Linked DNA regions of Homo sapiens: region 2 is linked to region 1. Evidence: fine-mapped expression QTL. A gene starts in region 1. The other region holds a variant in brackets. All regions are shown on one strand. Distances are between the middles of the regions.

Region 1 (8,350 bases):
TTTAATAGCTAGTTATTTTACTATAAAGAGAAGAATTCCTGGTTAATCAGAAACAATGATTTGTCTTTTTCTTGATAAGAACCATATATGAAAAAGTAAACCCCCAGAGAAACAAACACCCAGTTCTGTCTGCCCAACCCCTTTCATTATTAGTTTCCTAAGCTTGGACACAGAGCATTACACCTATCCACTCCCTTTGGGTTATTGCTGGTATTCTCTAGGCCGTAGCTCCAAAATGGGTCATAGAGTGGAGAAACTAATGGGAGAGATTAGGGCAAAGAGGTGTAAAATACTTCTTAGCCATCACACATAGTAGTGGAATTACTAGTAGGGGCCGTGAGGCAGGTAGCTTCCTTACTATCCTTCCATACCAACACCTTTGATTGCCTTCCAACAAAAAAGTACATGTCCATTTCAGCTTCACAGTTCTTGCAATAAGTCCAGTATCCTATCAAATTCTGGAACTAGGGTGCTTGTCAACAGGGTTATAGCTGCTCTTATGGTACTTTTCTGTGAGTTAGAAAAAGCACCTCTCTGAGAAGACACAGGCTGAAGGAGGCAAGGCTTTGCAACTGAGCACAGCCTGCTCAACCATACACAGTGGCCCTGGTTGTCAGTCTGCCTTCCAAGGCCATTGTGAGTTCTCATGTTTTTCTGATTTTTCATAGCCATTTTAGTTGGAGAGTCTGCAATATAATCAGCCAGTCCAGATGTCATCGTAAATCAGAAGTCAACCAGATTCCATTAATAGTGATATTGCACATCAAAGATTTGACTGAGAACATAACTGACATTCCAAGTCATAGTAACTGTTTATATTGCCAGGTTTCCTTGTCCTTAGGTTTATATTCAGAAGTCTCAATAAATTATTAAGCAGTTTTAAAACTAGGATTCAAAATATTTTTGAGACAGAGTCTCTCTCTGTTGCCCAGGCTGGAGTGCAGTGGCGTGATCTTGGCTCACTGAAATTTCTGCCTTCCGGGTTCAAGTGATCCTCCTGCCTCAGCCTCCCATATAGCTGGGATTACAGGTGTGCACCACCAAACCTGGCTAATTTTTGTATTTTCAGCAGAAACGGGTTTTCACCATGTTGGCCAGGCTGGTCTCAAACTCCTGACCTCAAGTGATCAGCCCGCCTTGGCCTCCCGAAGTGCTGGGATTACAGGCGTGAGCCACTGCACCCGTCCAGGTTCCAAAATATCTTTTAAAGGCCTGCAATTCCCTCATTTTCTTTTAATAATAATTCATTAATTAATATTATTAAATAGAGACGTGGTCTCACTATGTTGCCCAGGCTGGTCTGAAACTCCTGTGCTCAAGTGATCCTCTGCCCTTGGCCTCCCAAAGTGTTAGGATTATATGTGTGAGCACCACACCTGGTCAGTTCCCCATTTTCATGCCACCATACCCAACCTCCAAAGCCACATCACTGCTCACTAACTTGAGGTATATAATAATATGAGTGAAGGAAAATTGGAATAAAATTATGTCATTATTTTAAAAGATTATTCCTCAAATAAATGTCAACTCAATTTCTAACCTTTGTAAAACATACTGTATGTGAATTCTTAAAAAATCATCATTATAGGAAAAGGAAAATGTTTGATGCCATTTTAGCATTGATTACAAAATAATTCTACCAGCATTTATGCATATTTCACATACAGGGGAATTATGCAGCCACTTCTCTTCAAGACTACAACATCATGGAAGTGGAAAGAGAAAAATACGCATTTAAGAAATGTGTATATCTAGCTATTTCCTTATTCAAAGTTTTTAGCACCTCCATATTTCAAAATGCCTATGCATTCAGCTTTAGACTCTGAGTATATTACTAAATTCCACTATTTCAATCAGAAATCTTCAAATCAGCTTATTTAATTTGCTCAAGCAGTGCTGAATAAACTGGACTTCATCAAAATTAAGAATTTCTGCTTTGCAATAGATATTGTCAAGAGAGTAAAAAGACAAGCCACAGACAAGGAGAAAATTTTTTGCAAAAGACATATCTGATAAAGGACTTATCAAAAATACAAAGAACACTTAAAACTCAACATTTGGAAAACAACCTGATTAAAAAATGGGCCAAAGGCCTTTACCTCCCCAAAGAAGTTAACCAGATGGTAAATAAATAGCCATATGAAAAGATCCTCCACGTCATATGTCATCAGGGAAATGCAAATTAAAACAACAATAAAATATGACACACATCTATTAGAATGGCCAAAATCCAGAACACTTACAACACCAAATGCTGGCAAGGATTTGGAGCAACAGGAACTCTTATTCATTCCTGGTGGGAATGCAAAATGGTAGCCACTTTGGAAGACAATTTGGCAATTGCTTACAAAACTAAACATTCTCTTACCTTATGATCCAGCAATCATACTACTTGGTATTTATCCAAAGGAGATGAAAACTTATGTCCGCACAAAAAAACCTGCACACAGATATTTATAACAGCTTTTTTTCATCACACTGGGGTGAGGGATGTTGATAATGGGGAAGGGCTATGCTTGTGTCGGGGCAGAAAGTATATGGAAAATCTCTGGACATTCCTTTCCATTTTGCTGTGAATCTAAAACTGCCCTCAAAAAAAGTTTAAATAATTTTTTTAAAGCAGTACTGTATTGTGATGTTTAACTCAATTACTTATTACAAGAAAACTATTCAACTGGTCAAAACGTTATATATAAGAAGTTTCTGTTTGTTAAAAACATTGTTTCAAATATATTTAGGCTTTGACTTTTAAAAGTATACAGCAACATTCAAGATAACTAGACAGAATGCACTGCAACTTGGCAGGTTTTTAAATCCTTGGACTTACTGGCCTAAGGAAAGATGTGTAAACATCCATGATTCAGAAATACAGGGAGAAATTGGGGCAGCCAGACCTCATCCTCTTGCCCTAAAGGGAAAAGATATCTTTCTTGCGGTATCTAAGATATGAATCTTAGATAATATTCATGCATGGCTAGGAATTGGAATAATGGGAAAGTCTTAATTCATGGGAAATTTTCTAATAAAGTTCCACCTCCATTTCCAGCCATTCCTCTTTAACAAATACATTTAGTGAAAAATACTACCAGTTGGGGAGAAACCAAATGGGTATGTGTATATGTAGTGTTTCTCAGAGTGTGGACTTTAACCACGTTTAATTACATAAATTTACGAGGATCTGTTGAAAATGCAGGTTCCTGGGCTTCACTCCAGTTGCTCTGAAATGAAAGCTGTAGGAGTCGGTTGGTGAAACTACATTTTGTTTCTCAGGTGATTCTTGTGTACTCTAACTCATATATAGGGTGATGTTATTTATTTACTGGTTATTTATTTACCGGTTATTTATCGTTTGGCAAAAAAATCCAGCAAAGACTCACAAGTGACCTTTACACTTGACATAGGATTCTCTTCCGCTGCTGACGCTTTTTTTTTCTAAGAGGCGGGGACTTGGCTGGGCAGGGCTGGGGGAGGGCGCTAGGCGGGGCGGGCAGGGGCGGGGCAGAAGAGCCCTGGGCTGGGTGGGGCAGGGCGGAAGGGCCCTGGCCTTGTTGGGTGGAGGTGAAGAGTTAATGGCTCCGCGCGCAGGCACTGCCCTCTGAACTGGAACAAAATGCAACTTCCGGTTGGAGTCACTCGGCCAGGCGCCGGCGACCTGAGGGGAGAGGGAACGCAGCTGAAAGCGTGAACTGTGTGAGTAAGAAACTTTGTGAATTGGTGTGTCCGAATCCGTCAAGCACGACGTCGGAGAATTTGTATGCGTGAGCGAGAGGGACGCGCTGACAGTAGGGGCGCCGCAGGGAGAGAAGCCGAGGAGCAGCGGAGACAACCAATTTGCAGTTTGGGGAGGGATTTTGTGCGGGAGAAACCACGCGAGTCCTTCCCCCGGAGCGGACTCCTTGTGGGTTGGTTTCCGGGCCCGCGATGTCAGCATAGCATCGTCGGCCTCTGCCCCAACGGCTTCAAGGGAGGGACTCGTCCCGGCTGCTTTGCCCGGGAAATGGGGGTGGAAGGGCCTGCGGTGTCGAGGTGAGCAGTGGACCCTCCAGGAACATTCCCGACTTCCCTTCGGGAGAGAGACTGCCTCCTAGAATCAAGTAGTATCGTGGTTACTCTTTCGAAAACTTAATTGGTTCTTTCTGTTGTTTTCCCAAGGTGGTTGCACAATTCCCCTCTGCCTTCCTGTGGGGTGTCATCATAGCCTGGTCAATGAGAAGTTGGGTAACTTCCCAGAGGGTCACGGAGGGAGTGGGTGGCCAAGGCAGGAAGAACAGAAGCCAACCCCGCCCACAGTGGGAACCCAGGCGTTAGGTAGAGTCCTCACGCCGGTGTAAACTGACTAGCAACGAGTTACAGGCAAAAAAGCTGTGCTTTTCTAGAAGTAGAAAGGGGGAGGATAATCAAAGAAGAGCTGTGCCTTTATTGTTATGCTATAACGAGCAAAAGTAAAGCAGCCTTGCTATGTAAAGTGGTGTTTATCTCACCTCACAGGAGATGCTTTTGACAAGTTATAATAAGGGAGAGATGGTAGTAAAGGAAGTGAAGAAGCGACGTGAAATTGAAGGAAAAGAAAATGACCTGCCTTCTTACCGCGGTTGGAATACACACCCAAACGAGAGGTAGCAGAGAAGCAAGCAGTGCATTCTGTTAAAAATTATTGTGTCCTCATTTGAGAGAGGAGGGATCCTCAAATAATACAACTATGTGCAAAGCAGGAAGTGAAATCCTTCTCAGTCCTCTCCCCAGTTGTAATCCAAGCCTTCCACATCTTTCCTGTATGTGCATAACCATGTTATTTTGCTTTCTTATGAAAATGAGATTATGCATACTGTTCGATAATCTGTTTCAGATTAAATATATATATATGGTGAAAGTCTTGCCATATGTAGCTCTATTTTATTGTAATGTTGGCGTGGTACTGCATTGTGTAGATGTACCAAATTATAGTTAACTGTCACTTACTATGTCCTGTCCGTATATATTGCCCAGTATTCTTCAAAATTATCTGTTTCTCATTAGACTACAGATTTCATTAATCCTTTGTGAAATATATGGCAAATATTTTCAAGAATTATCAATGCTTTGGTTTAAAATGCCCAGGCTTTTTATCTCAGGTAAGAAGGTAGTCCCCACTCAAAAATTCTTAAAATCTTCTCCTATATTGCCTGTTAATTCTCTTTTTATGATTTACTCATTAAAACATCTGAAAATGATTTTTGTATGCTAAGATAAGGATTTAATTTTTTTCTTTGTTTTTATGACTAGGCAGCCATTTTTTCCTGAAATCATTTGTTGAAATCATTTCTCTCCCAACTGACTAGAAATACCTCCTTAATATAGTAAATTCTCAAGTGTACATGCATCTTTTCTTTAGACTCATCTGTTGCTTTGATCTTTTTGTCTCTTCCTTTAAAAATACCAATCTGCTTTGATATTACGTTTTCTAGTAATTCATAGGACAAGTCCCTCTTCATTTTTCCTTTTCAAAATTTTCTTGAATATAATTGCATTATCTTTGAGATAAAATTTAACATAAACTGTTCATGCTTCATTAAAATACTCTTTTTGGGATTTAACCATTATATTTTCTTATATTTTGTGACTGGTATGTAGATGAGTGTTTATGTATCTGGCCAACTTTCTAAATTTATTAATTTTAATAAATTGTTTCACTTGAATTTTCTAGGAAAACAATCATCTAATTATAATTCATCTTATCTCTTTCTTTCTTTGCTTTAGTGAATTGCTGGCTTCCCCAGAATAGTGGTAAATAAAACAGTGATTCTGGCCATCCTTTATCTTGTTTCTTAGTTTGGGGATGTTTTTATTATGTCATCATTAAATATGAAGTTACTATTAATATCTAATAAATTATATTTATCAGGGAAGTTTCCTTTAATATTTCTAGCTCATTGTGATTTTTGCAGAGAACTGTTTGGATTGCATCCAAAGTCATTTTTGCAACTGGGGATGGGGAGTGTCTATTGTATTAGATAGCACTTTGAGAACAATTTTAAATAATAGATATTGGATGTTCATTTGGTGTGTATATTCATTACTTCTTAACATTTTTATCAGGAATGGAAGTTGGATTTTGTCAAATGGCTTTTTGACATCTATCATAACCTTTCATAGGTACTTTTCATCTTTGACCTAACAGGATAGTGAATTACTTTAGTATATTTGCAGTTTGTGAACCAATCTTACGCTTGGTCATGGTGTAATATTTAAGTATATATTGGTTCCTTTGGTAGCATTTTTATTTAAAATCAATGATTGAGATTCATTTTATACTCACCTTTTTCTGTTATTTTTGCTAGGTTTTGGTATCAAGGTTATGCTGGTTCCTAAAAAGAACTGGGCAGAGTTCCTCTTCCTCCGCTCTGATGTAGTTTAAATAGCCTAAGAACTCTGCTCTTTGAAGATCTGAAAGAATTCACTCATGAAACCATGTGGGTCTGGGAGTTCATTGTTCTTAAGACAGCAACAATACTCAGCAAAATGGTTCAGAACAAACAAAAACTCCTTGGAGTAAATACAATTGAATGAAAGAGTCTGGGACACGGTAATGTCAAGAACTAAGAACAGCTGCTGTACTGATGCTGGTTATTTCCCCCCTACACACAACTTTTTTTTCATGGACAAGGAAAAATGCTGTAGGTAGGCTGAGGCTGTTAAGTAAAATGTCTTGCTATTCTTTCTCTTCTCTTCTTCAGTTATGTTACAGAAGCAAGGGTATTGCTTCTACATGGGCAAATTTGTCTATGCCCTGAAAGAAACCAAGAGTGAAACTCAACTGGGAAAGCATCAGTTTCACTTTATTGTCACTAGCTTCCCAATTTTGCCGGGAAATTTCTTAATTTAAAGGTAATAACCAAGCTGACATTTTACTGTAGCCAAATCCTACAGAGGGTTTCAAAATGAGTGGGTGAAAAAATATACAAGCTTAACATGCTTATACTTATTTAACATGAAGTGAAAATCATTAGCATAGTTCAGGTATGTGCATGGTATGTGCACGCACATGGGGCAGTGCTGTCATCTAACAGAAGCCCACCTTTTTACTTGACTAATGGTTTACTGTTAATACCTCGATAATAGTGTAATCTTTGATAGACTTTTATAAATGATTATTTCAAATGCTTTTTGATCACCTTCAAGAATATGACCTGAGACAGGTAATGTAATTTAGCAGTTTGCATCTATGAACTGTGGAGGATACCTACAGACACTGAAGCGTTACTAACAGTAGGATGCAGGCATTATGTGAATGCGTGGGTATTTTATTTCCATTTATGGGCTACTATAGCAAAAATAATTGGGGAGTTGCCCTATGATGAAAGAAGACTGCATGTTTTTTAAAACCATACCTTTGTCCAAAAGCAAATGGTAAATAAAAATAGACTGTTGACATAAAGCTTCGCTATTTCGATGCTATGCATTAGCTGATTGACTGTTACTGTTTATCCTTTTTGTTTTCTAACACCTTATAAGCATAAAATATTACTGTTTAATTGCAGTTCGTTTGTGTTCAGTTACGTAAAGCCTAGTTTTAGTTTCTATTTCCTGTAGGATTTATGCTGTGGCTGCCATTTCCCACCTGTTATCTCCTATGCTTGCTGCCATGGTTTTGAATCATAAATACAGGGAAAGAGGAGGCTATTATTTAGATATGTAACAAAAATCGCTTTATAGTTCGGAACCAAGATTATGATTATCTTCAGGAAGGGATAACAGAATATGAAATGAACTACCTTTTCAGTGAGTTGTTAATTAATTTTCAAAGTCTTTTGAACTAAGTGCAGTATTTGGTCACTGTTCAAATAAGTTGAGGGTAACTGGTACCAAGCCCTATGCAACTGAAAACAGGCTTTGGGACTTATGTAGTACATGTGTCACATTTTCCAATTCCTAATCTATAAAAGCTTTTTAAATTGTGGTAAAATTCACATAACATAAAATTTACCATCTTAACCTTTTTTTAAAGTATATGGTTCAATAATGTTAAGTGCATTCACATTGCTATGCAACCAAGAAAAACATTTTTAAAGGGACGTATTTTTCTTAAGGAAAAGAGTTTGGGAAGTAAATGATGGCAATTGTTTGTCTCATGGAAAATTTCCTGGACAGTAACTTTTTACCTTCAGAGATATATTCTCTATAAATGGTAATTATCAGTAGTAAGTTATGAGAGTAAACATTTTGAGTACTAGTGATCTATAATAGCTTTTACTTAACACCAATACTTTTTTTTTTTTTTTTTTTTTGCAAAAGGAAGGGTCTACTGAAAATAGGTTGCTAACATTGACAACAAAGTATTTTAAGTCATTGCAGTAAGGAATTACTGGAAATT
Region 2 (8,350 bases), 34 kb before region 1:
AATATTTTCAAAAACAATTTGGGGACTGATATAAGATTGCTAATCTTTAATTAGCTAAGCAAAGATATAAAAACAAATAACTACCATCCATTAACAGTGTTGTTTTATTTTTTAAAAGCACATGTTAATACCAAAACATAACTAGGAGGGAACTAATCTCATAATAAAAAGCAGTTCCTTAAAAGTGAATAAATTTAGCTTTATAGGAAAAATCACTACACTAGCCTTATCCTTCTCATTTCACCTAGTCTGATAAAAACTTCATCATAAACAATAGTCCATACACTCCACTTTAGGTACTACTGTAGGCTTAAGTAACAGGAGGAACTTTTGATAGCAAGTAATATTTTCTTCATCAATAACTAAGACTAGGGTCTTTGTGCAGGGAATGAATCTGGTTTGAAAATCAGTACCAACCTAAACCACTTCCAGGTTTATCATCCTTTCCATGCTCTCTGCAGTAGACACGAGCTGTTCCTAGAAGGCTGATTTCTATTTGCCCCATCCCAGCTTCCTTCTCCTACCTGTTGGTCCATATTGATAGGTTCTATGATATCCTAGTTATGACAATCCTCTTTCCTCTGTATTGAGGAAATGCCAGCCCTAAACAAGAGAACTTTGTTTTATCAGTTTTTCCAGAATATGAATGTTTGATTCCCACCAAGTTGCCACTGATTACTTTACATGGTATGGGCTGCATTTATGAGCAGCCCACACAGGATAAGTATCCAGAAAAGAAACAAGTTCCTGAGTCGCTGTCAGGATTTAATTCTGTAATCACTTTTAAGAAGTTGTGTTGGATTTGTAGAGAAGGCAAAACTCTGTTTTCCTATGCTTTGAAACTGGCTTCAATGACAATAAAGAAGAAACCAAAGAAAATGCTTTTGAAATTAGAGAAATAAAAACTTCTGAAATCTTTACGAGTAGGCAAGCTGTGAAAGCAGTGGCAGGGTGCTTCCTGCTGAGTCATGAAATGGAATGATTCATAGTCAAGCAATTCAAGGCCACAGACAACAGAACTCAAGCAAGGGAGTAGCAGGAATCAAGCCCAGATTGTAAATCCAGGATTGGAAACATAATTGAAATCAGGAGTAAAGCAGAAATATCACAGGAACACAGGCTGTTTGAGTCTGGTGGACATGCCAAAATTAGGAAAATGGTAGAACAGAATTAGGTCATTATTTGAGGATCGGGAACACAGACCAGAGATAGATGGATGCTAAGTGAAGCCCCTTGATTCAGGCTTCCTGGGAAAGAAGGCCTAAGAGACCTTAAGTAGATCTCTTGGAAATCTTTGTCAGCCCTACCTACAAAATTACTCCCATTTACCCAGTCTATCCACTCGCCTGTCTGGGAGCCACCCTGAAAGAATGATGAATGTCTCTGAGACTAATTCTACACACCAAACTGGTCCAACCACATTGACTGAAGCAATAGTTTGAGAAAACAAGTCCACAAATCAAACCTTCTTGTTCTGTCTATAGATATAACCTGAATCTAAACTTTGAGTTTAAATTGTCTCAGTAGTAAAATTACTGATGCATATAGCAGTATATACAGGCTTTTTTCTGTTGCTTCTGATTTTCATCAGAAACCCTAGAACAGAGAAGATTAAGAACACACATTATGAATTTAAGAAGCCACCCAAACAGCTGATCTAGAAATTCAAATAGCACAGATAAAAGGCAGTGGTGAGAAAAGAAATTAAGTGCTTTCTGCATATATCATGCTTAGTTCATCCAATGCTATGGGCTAAAGTGAGTCCCACCAAATTCGTGTGTTCAAGCCCTAACCCCCCTAACCTCAGAAAATGTTTTGGGAGATAGAACTTTTAAAGAGATGATCAAGTTAAAATGGGGCCACTAGGATAGGCTATAATCTAATCAGACTGGTGTGCTTATAAGAGGAAATTTAGCCACACACAGTCACAAGGGACCTGCCTGTACAGGGGAACCACCCTGTGAAGGAGAAGAAGAGAATAGCTAACTGCAGGCCAAGGAGACAGGCCTGGAATGGGTTTGTTCCTCAAGGCCTTTAGAGGGAATCAACCTTGCCAGCAATTTAATTTTGAACCTCCAGCCTCTAGAACTGTGAGAAAATAAATTTCTGTTGTTTAGGCCCGCTGATCAGTGGCATTTTGTTATGGCAGCTCTAGCAGATAGCACATCAAATAAACTGGTTAATGGAAGGGGAAAAAAATTCTGCTACTTATAAGTTTAAGTGCTCTATATCTTATAGCTGCACAAACTTTCTGAACCATACCCCTAACAAATTTTAAATTAACCTAAAAAGTCAATTTAGAATTCTGTGTCTTTTATAAAGTTTTAACATCTTTCAAGAAGAGGAAATAAACTTTCATTATCTTCAAATGTTCTTTCACATAAAGTCTGAAGTTTGTAGCCTGTTCCTACATCTTATCATGTCAGAAATAGAAACAATTTTTCTTCCTACATAAAGTAAACTTTCCTCATTAACATAAACATATGTTCAGACAAGAGCATATTCAGGGTTTTACCATGTTTCAGTGGATAGAAAATAAGAGAATACTCTGAGAGCTCATTAAGATGGTTTGATACTATTTGTCGAAAGTTTCAAGAGAGAATGTTGATTAAAATACAGGGAGTCAGTTAAAGTCCTCTCCTCAGCCTCTTGGGGTAATTTATCACCTTCAATCATCTTAAAGTTTAATAGCCAATAACAGTATAATAGTTCTCATTCATGAGGTAGTTATATTTTAACTGGGGTCAAAGCATTATATTACAAATAAAGATCTAACCTATTTCAGACATCATTCAAGGAAGATTTGAGGAGCCCCAAGATGTTGGTGGGGACTACACCTGTAAAGACATTTTATAGTTAACATCTGCTTCACTGACCTTCATATAATGTAAGTAATATACTTAAACAAAGCTACTGCTGAATGTTGACATAACAGGGTATAATGAAAACTTATCCCCTGCATTCAAAAGTGTGCCAGCTAAGTATGTATTGCATCCCAGCTTCAAAGCCACCTTTTATTGGCTGCTTGGCAAAAATGAAGCTGGAATGTTGAAATATTTCTTCTTTGCAGTGACAACAGTGTCAAGCTTTGTCTGTATACGGAGGTGGAGAAACACTACAAGAGGAATAGGGCTCCTCTTCCTGGTTCTGGTGTTTTCTATTTTCTTCTTGTTCCTATCTCATGGCTACCAACTGTGCATGTAAGGTTGCTCTAGTGACACCCCATCAAGTTGCAGTGGCATACATACTGATGGCTCCTCATCGAGTTGCAGTGGCATTCCTATTGACAGCTTCCCGATGAATCTCACAGGTGTCCCGAAAGTCAGCTTCCCAGCCTTGGCCCACGTGCACTTTGGAGGGGTGGTTTACTCATTGCCCAGCATCTGTGGACCAGTTCTGGCCTGGGCAACCAAGCACACTTCTCTGGAATCTCCTGGTCTACAACCACACCTTTTCCACTGTGGTCTGAATTCCGGCCTTAGGAAAGAGGTTCTCTTTCCCACATTTGTTCCTTCTTTAGATACCCTCCCTGAGCCCCAGATATCCTTTTGAGTATCTTTACTCCTTTATAGATCAGCACCTGGTATAGTTAATAGTTATTTATACTAAACTTTCCCTGTTCTAATTACTATCTGATTTTGTCTCCTGATTGAACCTTGACTGGTATAAGAGGGGTTGGGGAAAAAGGCCTTCATTCCTAAGGAATAAACTTTCCAAGCACTTATTTAAAAAACCCAAAGTATGCAAAGAACCAGAAGATAGTTTGCCCTTCTGCCAGAGTAGTCTATTTCAAATGACTCTAATATCCTGACTATAACAAATGACATAGAAAAAAACCAGTGAGCATTCAAATCCAAGAAAGATAGTTTCTCATATTAAACCCTCAACCAAAAAATCAAATAAAACAAAACCCTTAAACTAAAAATTCAAACTGAAATATACAAGGGACTTAATCAACTGTTAATCTGCAGTATGGTACCCAAATGAATATGTTCTGTGTTCAGTTTAAAAATTATCTGGAGGAAGCAGGGAAAAGGAGCCTGACTAGCTAGACTTTATACATCTGTTCTCTGCAAAAATATTATCTCAAACTAAGCCAGGTGCAGTGATGCATGCCTGTAGTCCCATCTACCCAGGAGGCTAAATAGGGGATTGCTTGAGTCCAGGAGTTCAAGGCTGCAGTAAGCTATGATCATACTTGATAATGGTCACTGCACAGCAGCCCAGAGTTTATAGATTATCCTTTCCATCTCTCCCTCTATTCCTTTCTCCTCTCTTATTTCTTTCTCACTGTCATTGGGTCTTAGACGTTAGATAGGTTAACATTTGTTATCTTCCTCATTTATAGAGAATTACAAGTATGAACTATTAATCCTGCTATTAGAAATTGTATCAGTACTAATAGAGAGACCTCCATCTCAAAAAG[C/CCACA]CACACACACACACACACACACACACACACACACACACACACACGTAATCACAAAATAGGCCAAAACAGGTCATGTTGGAAATGCAAGATCTGCAGCCATGATACTTTGCATATGTTATGCAGAGTCCCACACTTAGAGTGCTAATGATTGAGAGTCATGATACCTGTCTCACAGGCTTGTTGTAAAGATTAATACTGAGAGCAGTGTTTGACGTAGAGCAAATCTCCATAAAGGCTATTTGTTGTGGTTATTGTTGTATTCACGACTCCTTTTTGACCATATAGAGTATTACAGCAAGAAGATTTCAATTGCTAGTAACAGAAAATCCAACTCAAACTGGCTTAAACAATACGAGGGAACCTTGGGGATTACATAATTCAAAAGTCAAGAGGTAGAGGGAGCTTTAAAGTTGTTTGAGTTAGTGGTTCAGCAATATTATTAAAGACCCATGTTTTGACCAGGCACAGTGCCTCACACCTGTAATCCCAGCACTTTGGGAGGCCGAGGTAGATGGATCATTTGAGGCCAGGAGTTCAAGACCAGCCTGGGCAACATGGTGAAACCCCATCTCTACTAAAAATACAAACATTAGCCGGGCACAGTGGCATGCGCCTGTGCCCAGTTACTGTATCCCAGTTACTCAGGAGGTGGAGGCATGAGAATTGCTTGGACCCAGGAGGCAGAGGTTGCAGTGAGCTGAGATCATGCCACTGCCCTCCAGCCTGGGTGACAGAGCAAGACTACATCTCAAAGTAAATAAATTAATTAAAATTTTTAAAACACCAATTTTTTCCCCATCTCTCTTTTTGGCCATCTCGTGATGATGGTTTTATTCTGTAGTTGAAGACCCTTACAGCTTTAGGCTGTTTGTCAGCCTAAATAATGAAGGCTGTGCTTCACTTTTACTTTCAGCTCTGTAATCCAAGCAAGAGTCCTGGTATTCACCAAGGTTAGACTGGCTCGTGTCATGCACTCCACCCTCAGCCAATAACAAAAGTAGGAGAAATATAATGTACTGACTGGTTTGAGCCAGTCCTAGCCTACTCATGGACAGTGGTTGGAGTTTGCTTCCCAAACAGTACATAGGCTACAAGGGGAAAAAGGAAAAGGCAATATAGAAGTTGCATAGACAAACAAAAATGATCTTGCTTAAATAATTTAATTTCTCGCCATCTAGTTTTCCTGCAAAACTTGTATGAATTCACAATTTTTTTTTTTTTTTTTTTGAGACAGAGTCTTGCTCTGTCACCTAGGCTGGAGTGCAATGGTGTGATCTTGGCTCACTGCAACCTCCACCCTCCGGGTTCAAGCAATTCTCCTGCCTCAGCCTCCAGAGTAGCTGGGATTACAGGTGCCTGCCAGCATGCTCGGCTAATTTTTGTATTTTTTAGTAGAGACAGGGTTTCACCATGTTGGTCAGGCTGGTCTCGAACTCCTGACCTCAGGTGATCCACCTACCTCGACCTCCCAAAGTGGTGGGATTACAGGCATGAGCAACCATACCCAGCCAATTCACATTTTAATTTTACAGAGACAGTGAAGAAAAATACATCAATGAATAAAAAACAACAAAGAAACTCTCTTACATAGTCTTACCATGTGCTCAGGGTTTTAAATCCTTTACACATACTAATTCATTCAATTCTCAAAACTACCATAAGTTTTAGGCAAGACATTTGTCAAAGGTGAAGTCAGGATTTGGAATGTAGGCATTATGGCTCCAGCACCTATTTGCCTAACTCCTCTGCAGAGAGATGGATGTTACTTCTGACGTGCTCCAGAAAGTGCCGCTGGGCTTGGTTCTATGGCTCCCTCTCCCAAGAGCTGATCAGCATATTGCAATTGATGAATGAAGGGTTAAAGAATAAATAAATGAGACATGAGAAAGAGGTGTTTCTACAAAGTTTTTTTCCATCCAAACAATATTTTAAAATCTGAAACCCAATGATAAGAGAAGAATAAAACACACAGTTCTTTCACCAATTGAATAATTAGAAAAAGTTCACCAATTCCATCCCACTCAGCTTCCAAACCATAACAGCATCTTCAAATTATAATGCCAAAGGTGATCAAGTACTTTGAAGCCAGGATCTCTAATGCCAGTGAAAAACTGTCAAAATTATGAGTCAGCTGTTTGATATTTAGAAAATCAATTAATCTCTTTGGGTCCGTTTCCTGCTCTTTGAAGTGATTTAACTTAAAAAAATCTTTTAAAAATAGCATGTCTACGCACAGAATTACCTCTACACTTTTAGAACTACCTCAATCTTTCCTCCTCAAACAATAGCTTGTGATTTTACTTGAAACCCGTGTTTATTGGATATTTTATCATGGCTCTGGCATCCCACCAAATATGATCAAATTAAAAAGGAACTGAACTGGTAAAGCAAGGAATAAATAACACACAAGGAACTTTGAAATCTCTCTGCAAGCTTCAGCTAGTTAATCCTCCCAACATCCCCCTGGAGTCATGCTAAACAGTTTTCAAAGGTCAGATCTCATTGAGAATTTGACTTATTTTATTGAAGTAATAGAAAAACCCAGAGTTTATGGATTATTCTTTCCATCTCTCCCTCTATTCTCTTCTCCTCTTTGATTTCTTTCTCACCACCATTGTGTCTTAGAGGTTACAGACAGGCTGACATTTTTTATCTTTCTCATTTATAGATAATTACAAGTATGAACTATTATTATTAATCCTACTAATATTAGTAATTGTATCAGTACTAAATTACTGTGTTCTCACATAGAAAATTATTGATGACAGGCATCTCATAGCAATTTCAATTTCATGAATTTATAATTCCAAAAGAAATATATTTCAGGTAATGCAAATTTGTTTTCTACAATTTATATATTCCTTACCTCTTTGAGGGGAGTTCAGTAATTTCTATTTTATCCTAATATCAAAACCACTTTTCTAGGTTTCTCAGTTTAGAAAGAAAATGCCTGTGAGGCTCATTCTTTTGGCTGGTGTTTCTCATCAACTTTAGAAAAGAGAAATCCCAGTGCATAGATCAAAATAGAAAGGTTAATTGGTAATAAACTAAATGTATTGCTATCTTGGCCAATAAAACAGAAAGTAGAATGTATAATATCTAAAACAAATTCTTCAATGGTGAGATGTCTCATTTTCTGATTAAATTCTGTCAGCTTACAGAGACTTTTTATGGAAACTTAAATAGTTCACCTTGTACCCTGTAGAAAGTATCATGTATTTTTTATGAGACATATTAAGCTATACATAACAGATTAGAAAGGAAAAATGGAAGGATGAGTAAAACTGCAGAAACAAATGTGCATTATCATCTTCCTTGACTAATTGTATTGAATCTGCTCCCAGGTTGCCCTATTTTTCTAAATTGGCATTTGAAAAGAGACAGCATGTCTAATTTGCTCCTCCACTTCTCAACAAGAGCACCTGTGTTAGTCCGTTTGCGTACTGCATGAACAACTGCCCAAGACTGGGTAATTTATAAAGGAAAGAGGTTTAATTGACTTACGGTTCAGTATGGTTGGGGAAGCCTCATAAAATGTACAGTCATGGTAGAAGGTGAAGGGGAAAACAAAGCGCCTTCTTCGCCAGGGGGCAGGAAGGTGGCGTGCCAAGCGAAGAGGGAAGAGTCCCTTATAAAACCATTAGATCTCGTGAGAACTGACTATCACGAGAACAGCATGGGGGAAACCCCCACCCACCATGATTCAACTACCTCCATCTGGTCTCTTCCTTGACACGTGGGGATTATGGGGACACAAAGCCAATCATATCAGCACCTCTTCTGCATCACCCTCCTTTTCCCTTCCCATCCTCCTGCCATCTTCAATTATGCTATTCTTAACATGCCCATCCCAAGACCAAGGTAGGTATTAAGCAGGAATTGAAGGTGGCATATTCTCAGTTCGTTACGTTCTTGTCAGCCTGG

The links.
Region 2: its variant is fine-mapped to the expression of TANK in whole blood (INTERVAL, PIP 0.97).

Annotation. Positions count from the first base shown.
Region 1 is chr2:161,156,797-161,165,146 of GRCh38, forward strand. TANK (TRAF family member associated NFKB activator) reads left to right here and starts at 3,632. Exons shown (of 8, transcript NM_001199135.3): 1 at 3,632-3,690. It overlaps TANK-AS1 (TANK antisense RNA 1), which reads right to left and starts at 3,494. Exons shown (of 3, transcript NR_187173.1): 1 at 3,336-3,494; 2 at 2,369-2,440. RefSeq lists enhancers at 3,342-4,105, 7,526-7,695.
Region 2 is chr2:161,122,451-161,130,800 of GRCh38, forward strand. The region is part of intron 2 of TANK-AS1 (TANK antisense RNA 1); the gene reads right to left. Among named protein-coding and RNA genes, the nearest start is that of TANK-AS1, 34 kb to the right of the region's middle. The variant C/CCACA (reference allele first, on the strand shown) is at 4,427.